2 separate regions of the Homo sapiens genome follow, and region 1 is linked to region 2. The links come from fine-mapping of genetic effects on gene expression. A gene starts in region 2. The other region holds a variant in brackets. All regions are shown on one strand. Distances are from middle to middle.

Region 1 (4,388 bases), 58 kb after region 2:
ACCAGTTACACATTTCAAGGGCTCAATGGCCCCATGTGGCAGTGGTCCCGTAGAGGACGGCACAGCTCTAGACATGGTGTAGGAAGTTGGAGAAGGCTTCCTTAGGGAAGCAAGTGACGGTTGAGCCATGACTAGAAGTTGGTTAACTTGGCAAAGGCTGGGAGTTGGGGAAGCAGAAGAGTGTGTCAAGCACAGGAATGTTATGTGGAAAGGCCTGTGACACAGGGCAGCATGACGCCTGCAAGCCAGCGTAGCTGGAGCCAGGACAGCAGCAGAGAGTCCTAGGAGCTGGAGAGGAAAATAGAGAGGCAGGGGATGAGGCCGCCTTAAGAGGCTATCTTCATCCCGAGACACCAGGAAGCCCTGGGAGAACATTTAGCTGGGACAGCGTGGTTAGATTTCCATTTTTCAAAAAGCCCCTTTGCTACTGGGTGGAGATAGTTTGCAGGAAGTTTAGGGGAAGGAGGCACAGAGAGGGAGAAGTGGTGGGTGCTAGAGCTCTGAGAGGTAACATTGGAGGGGTAGTAGGTCTGGGGGTTGTGAGGAACAAGGGGTTTTCAGGGAGTACCCCAGGGCCCCCAGGTGTCTGGCTGGGATGCCAGGTGGAGTGATGGGCACCTGTGGGACAGCCAGGCAGAGACATCTGAGGCGGCAGCTGGGGAACTGTCTGGAACTCCGGTTGATGTGCTACCTGGGCTTAAGATGTACTCCCAAGAGTTACCAACACCTACACTTGGGAGTGGGTGCATTATCCAGGGAGGAGCCAAGGTTGAACACAGGTGGGTTTTTGTTCAGCATTTTAAAAAATTTTCATTTTTTTTTGTAGAGACAAGGTCTCATTTTGTTGCCCAGGCTGGCCTCAAGAGATCCTCCTGCCTTGGCCTCCCAAAGGGCTGGGATTACAGGCGTGAGCCACTGGTCCCAGTCTGTTCAGCACTTTTTCCACTAGCTTAGTATCTCCACATACCTCAAAGAGATCACCAAGTCCAACTCATACATGCAAACCAGTGCTCAGGAAGTCCACATGATCCTGCTGTGGTTCATTTGACCAAAACTGAGCGGTGGAGCTAAGCAAGGCTGTTTCACAGAAGCCAGATATATAAGTGTCCTCAATATGGAGGGCAGTCACCATCTCCCAGTGTCTCTGACTGCTGCAGGCACACTTGGCAAACTGTGCTCAGGTCAGGGATGGTCTGGGTGGGGGCTCCAGTTTCTGCCACTCACCAGTGATGTGACTCTGGGCAATGTACAAAATCTCTTGGGTTTTAAGTTTCTTAGATGGGGATAATAAACCAATCTTGCAGCATGTGAGGATTTAATGAGACTACAGTTCCCATGAAGGGGATGGGGTGCTGACCTTCCCACACAGTCAAAAATCCACATATAGGCCGGGTGTGGTGGCTCACGCCTGTAATCCCAGCACTTTGGGAGGCTGAGGCGGGCAGATCATGAGTTCGGGAGTTTGAGACCAGCCTGATCAACATGGTGAAACCCCGTCTCTACTAAAAATACAAAAATTAGTCAGGCGTGGTGGTGCGCACCTGTAATCCCAGCTACTCAGGAGGCTGAGGCAGAAGAATTGCTTGTACCCAGGAGATGGAGGTTGCAGTGAGCTGAGATCTCACCACTGCACTCCAGCCTGAGGGACAGAGTAAGACTCCGTCTCAAAAAAAAAAAAAAAATCCATATATAACTTTCAACTCACCACAACTTTTGTTAATAGCCTACTGTTGGCCAGAAGCCTTACCAATAACATAAACACTCAACACATATTTTGTATGTGATTTGTATTGTATACTGTATTCTTACAATGAAGTAAGCTACAGAAAAGAAAAAGTACTAATAAAATCATAAGGAAGAGAATGTATTCACTATCACTAAATGGAAGTGGATCATCATAAAGGTTTTCATCCATATCATCTTCACATTGAGTAGGCTGAAGAAGAGAAGAGGTTGGTCCTGCCATCTCAGGAATGGCAGAGGCAGAAAAGGTGGGGGAGATGGGAAGGAAGGCAGGAGACGCACACATGCTGAGAAATTCATCGTTATTTCTGTCTGACATTTTTGCTTTTTCATTTCTCTAAATATGTTTCTTTGTGATACCAATCCTCCTTCCACCATTTGCTTTAGTTTTGGTGCCCGTACCATAGAAAGGTCCATATGGTAAAAGAAGTCACAAGCAGTCTTGAATAATCGGAACCCCTCTGCCAGATTGTCGAATGTCAACTTATTTTCTGGTACTGCGTCTACATCCACTTCTTCATCATCTGGCACTGATTCGAAAGCACTCATCTCCATCAAGTGGTCTTCTGTTAATTCCTCTGGTGTGATGTCTATTCACTCTTGAATTTCTCCA[A/C]GATCCATATCCTGAAAGCCTACATTCCCCACCTTTTTTGCCACAGGCACACTCTCTTTCATGATTTCCTTGATTGGCCCTATTGTAAATCTGGACACAGTTTTCTCCAGTAGGAAGGCTGGGCACTGAGAGCCTTCGAACCTTCTGCTTCACCTTTTGACATTTAGGGCCCAATTTTAATGCATTTAAATGTTGCCTCCACTCTGAAATGAACATGGGACGTCTGTAATGTGTGAAATAGGTGTGTCTCACCCCCTTCATGAATATTCATAGAGCCTTCTATAACCTGTTGAATATGTACATTTAGCCAACCCTTTCAGCATAACTTCCTGTCTCACCTTTCTGTCCCTGGAAGTGCCTACTTTTGGTCTTTGCTGGAGGCTAGACTTCCCAGCCTGTCAAGACAGCCAGGCTGCAGGCTGCAACCTTTCTAAGAAATAACGCTTTTGGGCTGGCCCAGTGGCTCATGCCTGTAATCCCAGCACTTTGGGAGGCTGAGTTGGGTGGATCACTTGAGACCAGGAGTTCGAGCCCAGCCTGGCCAACATGGTGAAACCCCATCTCTACCTAGAAAAAAATACAAAAATTAGCCAGGTGTAGTGGCATGTGCCTGTCTTCCCAGCTAAACGGGTGGCTGAGGCAGGAGAATTGCTTGAACCTGCGAGGCAGAGGTTGCAGTGAACTGAGATTGCACCACTGCACTCCAGCCTGGATGATAGAGCTAGACTCTGTCAGACAAAAAAAAAAAAAAGAGAGAAAGAAAGAAAGAAAGAAGAAAGAAAGAAAGAGAAAGAAAGAAAGAAAGAAAGAAAGAAAGAAAGAAAGAAAGAAAGAAAGAAAGAAAGAAAGAAAGAAAGAAAATAAGGCTCTTGGCCTGGCACAGTGGCTCATGCCTGTAATCTCAGCACTTTAGAAGGTCGAGGTGGGAGGATTGCTTGAGCTCAAGAGTTCGAGACCAGCTGGGCAAGATAGTGGGACCCCTGTCTCTACAAAAACAAGTTTGAAAATTAGCCAGGCATGGTGGCACACACCTGTAGTTCCAGCTACTTGGGAGGCTGAGGTGGGGGATTGCTTGAGCCTGGGAGGTTGAGGCTGCAGTTAGTCATGATTGTGCCACTGTACTTTAGCCTCTCCAAATTTGTAGATCTCATAATTTTAAGTCACCATCCTCCACCAGTCTTTCGTTTTAAGTTGTTGTATAATGATATCAGTTTTTCTTGAATCATATTAGAATCTATAGATATGCTTTTCTTATAGATATCCTGCACCCACATAAAAGCTGCATTTTCTCTATTTCTCTGTCCTTCCTTCCTTCCTTCTTTCTTCTTCTTCTTTCCCCCCCACCCCCCTACAGAGCCTCGCTTCCAGGCTGGAGTGCAGTTGTGTGATCTTAGGCTTACTTCAGCCTCCACCTCCTGGGCTCAAGTGATTCTCCTGCCTCGGTCTCCCAAAGTGCTGGGATTAAAGGCATGAGCCACTACATTCAGCCAAAAGCTACATTTTCAAGACTAGACAAAAAGGTATTTGGCAAAAAGAGCAAAGTTTCATGTCTGCTAGCATGGCTGCAGTGATGACACTGTGAATTTCCTTTTCTTTTTTTACAATGGTTCTTACACTGGATTAATTTATCTTGAAATGGTGGGCAACCGCAGCTGCAGACCTCAGTCTACAGTACATATCAATCAATCCACCTTTTTCTTGTACTGTCAAGACTTTTCTCTGCTTTTTGGCAGCACTTCCAGAATCACTAGTGGCGCTTCGTACGCGTCTCGATGTCTTCTTCAGATTTATGGTATTGCACTAAACATGAAAAATACATGAGAACCACGAGAGATTACTTTTCACTGTGATACACAATCTACAGGAGAGACAAGTGCTCACACGGAGATGGCTAGTGTCACATGGCATTTTAAGTGGACACTCGACACCTGAGCTCACTGCAATAGTAGCAGGAGGGGCGACAGAATTACTACAGTAGTACAGTGGGCTCCCATTAATTTATGCAATTATGACTTAATACTGCATCTTTACA
Region 2 (4,388 bases):
CCTTTCATGAAGACTCTGCTCCCATGATCCAATCACCTCCCACCAGGCCCCACCTCCAACATTGGGGATTACAATTCCACACGAAATTTGGGCAGGGACAGACCCAAAACATATCAATAACTGATACAGATGGCATATAAAACTGAGACAGAATTAGATCATCCAGGGAATAAGTATAGACACAGAAGAAAAGAAAACTGAAGCCCGAAACCTATGGCCTCACTCTAATTTAAACAGGTGAGAGCAGGGGAACCAGCAAAAGCAGCTGAGAAAGAGCATCCAGGGCTGCAGGTGGAGTCCTGTGAGACAAGTGAATCAAAGTGAATAGGAGAGGGGCCAGAGTATGTATTGACTGTTCTTTTGTGAAGTTTTGCTGCAAAGGGGAACATAGAAAAGGTGCAGGTCCTGGTATAGGAAATAGGGTCGAGTAATTTCTTTGTTTTGAAGATGAGAGAAATAGCTGCATGTTATGTGACGATGAGAAGAGTCCAGTAGAAAGGAAAATATTGCTGATGTTGCAGAGAGGATAGGCTGGCTGGAGTGACACCCTGGAGCAGTAAGAGATGATGGGATCCAGCAGTCCAGTGCAGGATTCTTTGGGTGGACCTAGCAGTTGTTCATCCACAGTCACAGGGAGGCAATAAGAGGCGGATGGGTGGAGGTGGACGTGGGAGTCTGTGGAAGACTTTTACCACTTCTATTCTCTTAGCAAAGCAGGAGGCAAGGAAGGGAGAGGCAGTGGGAAGGATTGAACAGAGAGGAGGAAGTGCGAAATACTCACTTGGAACAATGGGAGATTGAATAGACCAGGCAAAGAATGATTAAAGTGAGGACGGCTGGCATGGTCCTGTTTTCCTCCAGCCATGTTTAGTTGCATCGTCGTGGCATGGAATAGATGGAGAGCTGGGTTTATCCAGGGCTCCCATCTTACCAAGCAGATAGGAGATGACAGGGAGGTGCATGAGTTGAGGAGGTGTGCAAGGGATCAATGAGAATGGTTGGCCATTGAGTTTAAGCTGGCTCACTAGAGAGGGTCATAAAGGAAGAAACAGTGAACAAGTAGTAAGATCTTGATTGGAGGTGCTGGTAAGGTTGCAGGAGTTTTGTTTCAGGGCAGTATAGGGAGTGACCTGGACAGATAGGAGGATAGATAGACCTGGTCAGAGTGGGATACTGTGGGGGTTGCAGTCCTTGGACCTGACAAGGTCTAAGGTCTGATCATGGAGGGAGGGGGAAGCTGAGGTAGGGCAGAGGACAGGAGTGGGCTTCATGAGACCAAAAGGATGTTGGAAGGATTATCTACCTGGATACTGAAATCTTCAAGAAGTAAGAGGTGTAGTGTGAAGAAGTTACAACACTCTAAGCTCTTCAGGGATAAGGGAAGCATGTGCCACGTGGGTAGCCTCCCAAGTCCAGCACCCAGTATCTAGAATATGCAGAGTGAATACCTGGGGGCTGCTGAGGGCAAGAACAAGGTGCCTGTGAGAAGACCTGACGCCTGGGGTTCTCGTGACAGGAGTGGGCCTAGTTTTTGGTGTAGAATTGAGCCTTGAATGCACCAGCGGGATCATATTGAAAAGAAACCCTCCAAGACTAAAGGAAGATGCATCCTCTGACAATGTACGCTCTGTAGGCTCCCAAGTAGCTGGGCTGGGGATTAGATGGACTCCAAGGCATTTCCTCAGGTGGCAATGGGCGGATCCCTGGGAAGGTAAAGCTGTGCAGTAAGAAAACGGCAAGATGCTACGTTCACTCAGGTAAAGCCCCTTTCCCGGGTTTAGGGAGGGCGAGGCAGTTTAGGCTGGGTCAGTTTGTCCCTGCCCTCACGGTTTGTTGGTCCTGGCAAAAGAGGGCCTTATGTTATTTATTTTTCTTAGAGACAGTGTCTTGCTCTGTTGCCCAGGCTGAAGTCCAGTGGCTCATCTCAGTTCACTGCAGACTCCGCCTCCTGGGATCAAGCGATCCTCCCACCTCAGCCTCCAGAGTAGCTGGGACCACAAGCACCACAGGCGCCCGGCACGATGCCGGCTAATTTTTTTTTTTTTTTTTTTTAAGAGAGAGAGGTAGGCTCCCTATGTTGCCCAGGCTTGTCTTGAATTCCTGGGCTCAAGCAATCCTCCCTCCTCGGCTTCCCAAAGTGTAGGGATTACAGGCGTGAGCCACTGCGCCCTGCCAAAAGAGGGCTTTAGGGCACCCCAGAACGCGAGATCCCCCTCATCTGTAATCTTTAAAGAGGAGGAAGTGTACTCCAAATCAAGCGATAGTCCATTCGTCCTTGGCACGGTGACTGCCGGGAGGCCAGGACCAAATGTGTCTCCTTCCGGCTTTTGCACCACACTAACTAACCGGCGCCAGGCCGCAGAGCCGCCCTGGCCTTCGGCGAGAACTCAGGCGAGCGCGGCGCACGCTGCTCCGGAGTCCCACCGCGGAAGTTGAGGCCGCGGATTCCGAGGGCGGGGTGGAGAGGAATCTGGAAGGACCTGGACCCGGTGGAACGCACTGCGCGGACGGCGCCTGCGTCCGCACTCAGCTGTTCAGCCCTCTTTCTTCAGGCTCTCCCCTGAAAGCCGTCCCCATGCCGGTCTCTTTTTTCTGCCTTCTTGTTTCCCTCCGGCGAGTCAGCGCGACTGTGAATTTCCGTTTCCGGCGGTGTCCATGCTGACCTGAGGAGTCGCGGCTGCGAGCAGGTTCGGTGCTGCGGGTTGGGGTAGGCGGCGGTGGGGTCCCTGGTTCTGGGGCACTGGGAAGATCGCGAGTCGTGCGTGTGGGAAGGTCCTCCCCCGGTCCTCCGGGTCATCTTTGCTCCCGAGGAGCGGCATATTTCTCATCTGGCGGAGGTGTCCTGGGGTAGTTGGGTGAGTGACGTGATGAATCCCTGCAGAGAGCCCAGACGGGGAGGGAAGGTGGCTGGGCGACGTCGTTTCCTGGCGACGTGGTCCCGGTAGGAGACTTAGACCTGAGCTGGATCTGTTGACCCCAAATTGTGCTTTTCCCACCAAGAAGAAAGACAGGGAGAGAAACATTAGTACAAGTGCTGAACTAAAATATAGCAGAGAAGAAACATAATCTCTGAAATCACACAGCTATTCGGTTTCAAAGCGTTCCTAGCGCCCAGCTCTCCTAACTCCTGGCCAGTGTTCTTGACATTATGGTAATACATAAAGACTTTGTTTCCGCTGGTGTGTGTCTGTGGGAAGCCTCTGACTCACCTCCGTGCTCCAGTAGCACCCTGTGCAGCCTTCCAATGTCGCCCTTATTGCGTGGCGCGGAAGATAATAGTTTGGATTTCCTCTGCAAGTCAGATAATAGCTGTATCCACTTACTGGCACAGTGCCTAGCACATCGTAGACAGACACAAATATTTATTCAACGGAATGAATACAGTACCTTAATTGAATGAAATGGCATCCTGCTCCGCTTTTTTTTTTTAATCAAGCTGTCAGATTTTATGCAGCCCGATTTCCTAAAATAACTCACTAATTCAGTGATTGCCAATTTATTAGCCACAGATTCCCAGGTAACTCAGAAATCACTGGAAGGGTCTCTGTAAGTTCATGGGGTCTCCAGGTGTCATCTAGAACCAGTCCTATCTCACACGTACAGCTATTTCTATTTTTCAAATGTATGTAGATAAGTTGTAATTTAGGAGTTTTACAGAGTCAACAGGTACTAAAAGTAATACTGCGATCATATTGGAGGTTCATAAAAACGTTTCACATTTTTTTATTAAAATTTAAGTTTTAGTTTAAGTTAGGAAACCACTTCATCAGTCCAGTTGATACCTGGGTCTGAGCTGTCCAGTATGGTAGCCACATGTGACTATTTGGAGTTAGAATGAAATTAATTAAAAACTCATTTTTTCAGTTTCCCTAAGTATATTGTAAGTAACCACATGTGGCTAATGGCTAAATGGCTGAAAAGTACAGATATAGTATATTTCTATCCTTGCAGAAATAGATACTGCTGATGTTGACACTTAAGATGAATAAAAAGTAACTTAACCATAAAATGTAATCTTAAGAGAGGTAACTCATCTAATTTATAGCATAACAGAGAGAAATGAAATTGGGGATGGTTAAGCAGTTTCTACCCTTGTTCAGTGAACAAATACATCATCTCTTCATAAAGAAATAAATGAAATTTACTGTTTTTCCCTGGGTATTGCCTGGATTGTAAAATGCTTCTCCCATCTCCTTACCCCAACCTTCTTCCTTGTAGGTTAGAGTTACTTGTTATTGGTAAATAGCCACTATGGAGGCTAAGGACCAGAAGAAACACAGAAAGAAAAACAGTGGACCCAAAGCTGCAAAGAAAAAGAAGCGGCTTCTGCAGGATCTCCAGCTAGGAGACGAAGAAGATGCCCGGAAGAGAAATCCCAAAGCTTTTGC

What was found. PIP is the estimated chance that this variant, and not a neighbour inherited with it, causes the effect. A credible set is the group of variants that fine-mapping cannot tell apart.
Region 1: its variant is the best candidate, but not a certain one, in a credible set for the expression of BMS1 in whole blood (TOPMed, PIP 0.65).

Annotation. Positions count from the first base shown.
Region 1 is chr10:42,838,283-42,842,670 of GRCh38, forward strand. No RefSeq gene overlaps it. Among named protein-coding and RNA genes, the nearest start is that of LINC02623, 31 kb to the right of the region's middle. The variant A/C (reference allele first, on the strand shown) is at 2,357.
Region 2 is chr10:42,780,144-42,784,531 of GRCh38, forward strand. BMS1 (BMS1 ribosome biogenesis factor) reads left to right here and starts at 2,652. Exons shown (of 23, transcript NM_014753.4): 1 at 2,652-2,687; 2 at 4,219-4,388. The coding sequence starts at 4,252. RefSeq lists an enhancer at 2,483-2,832.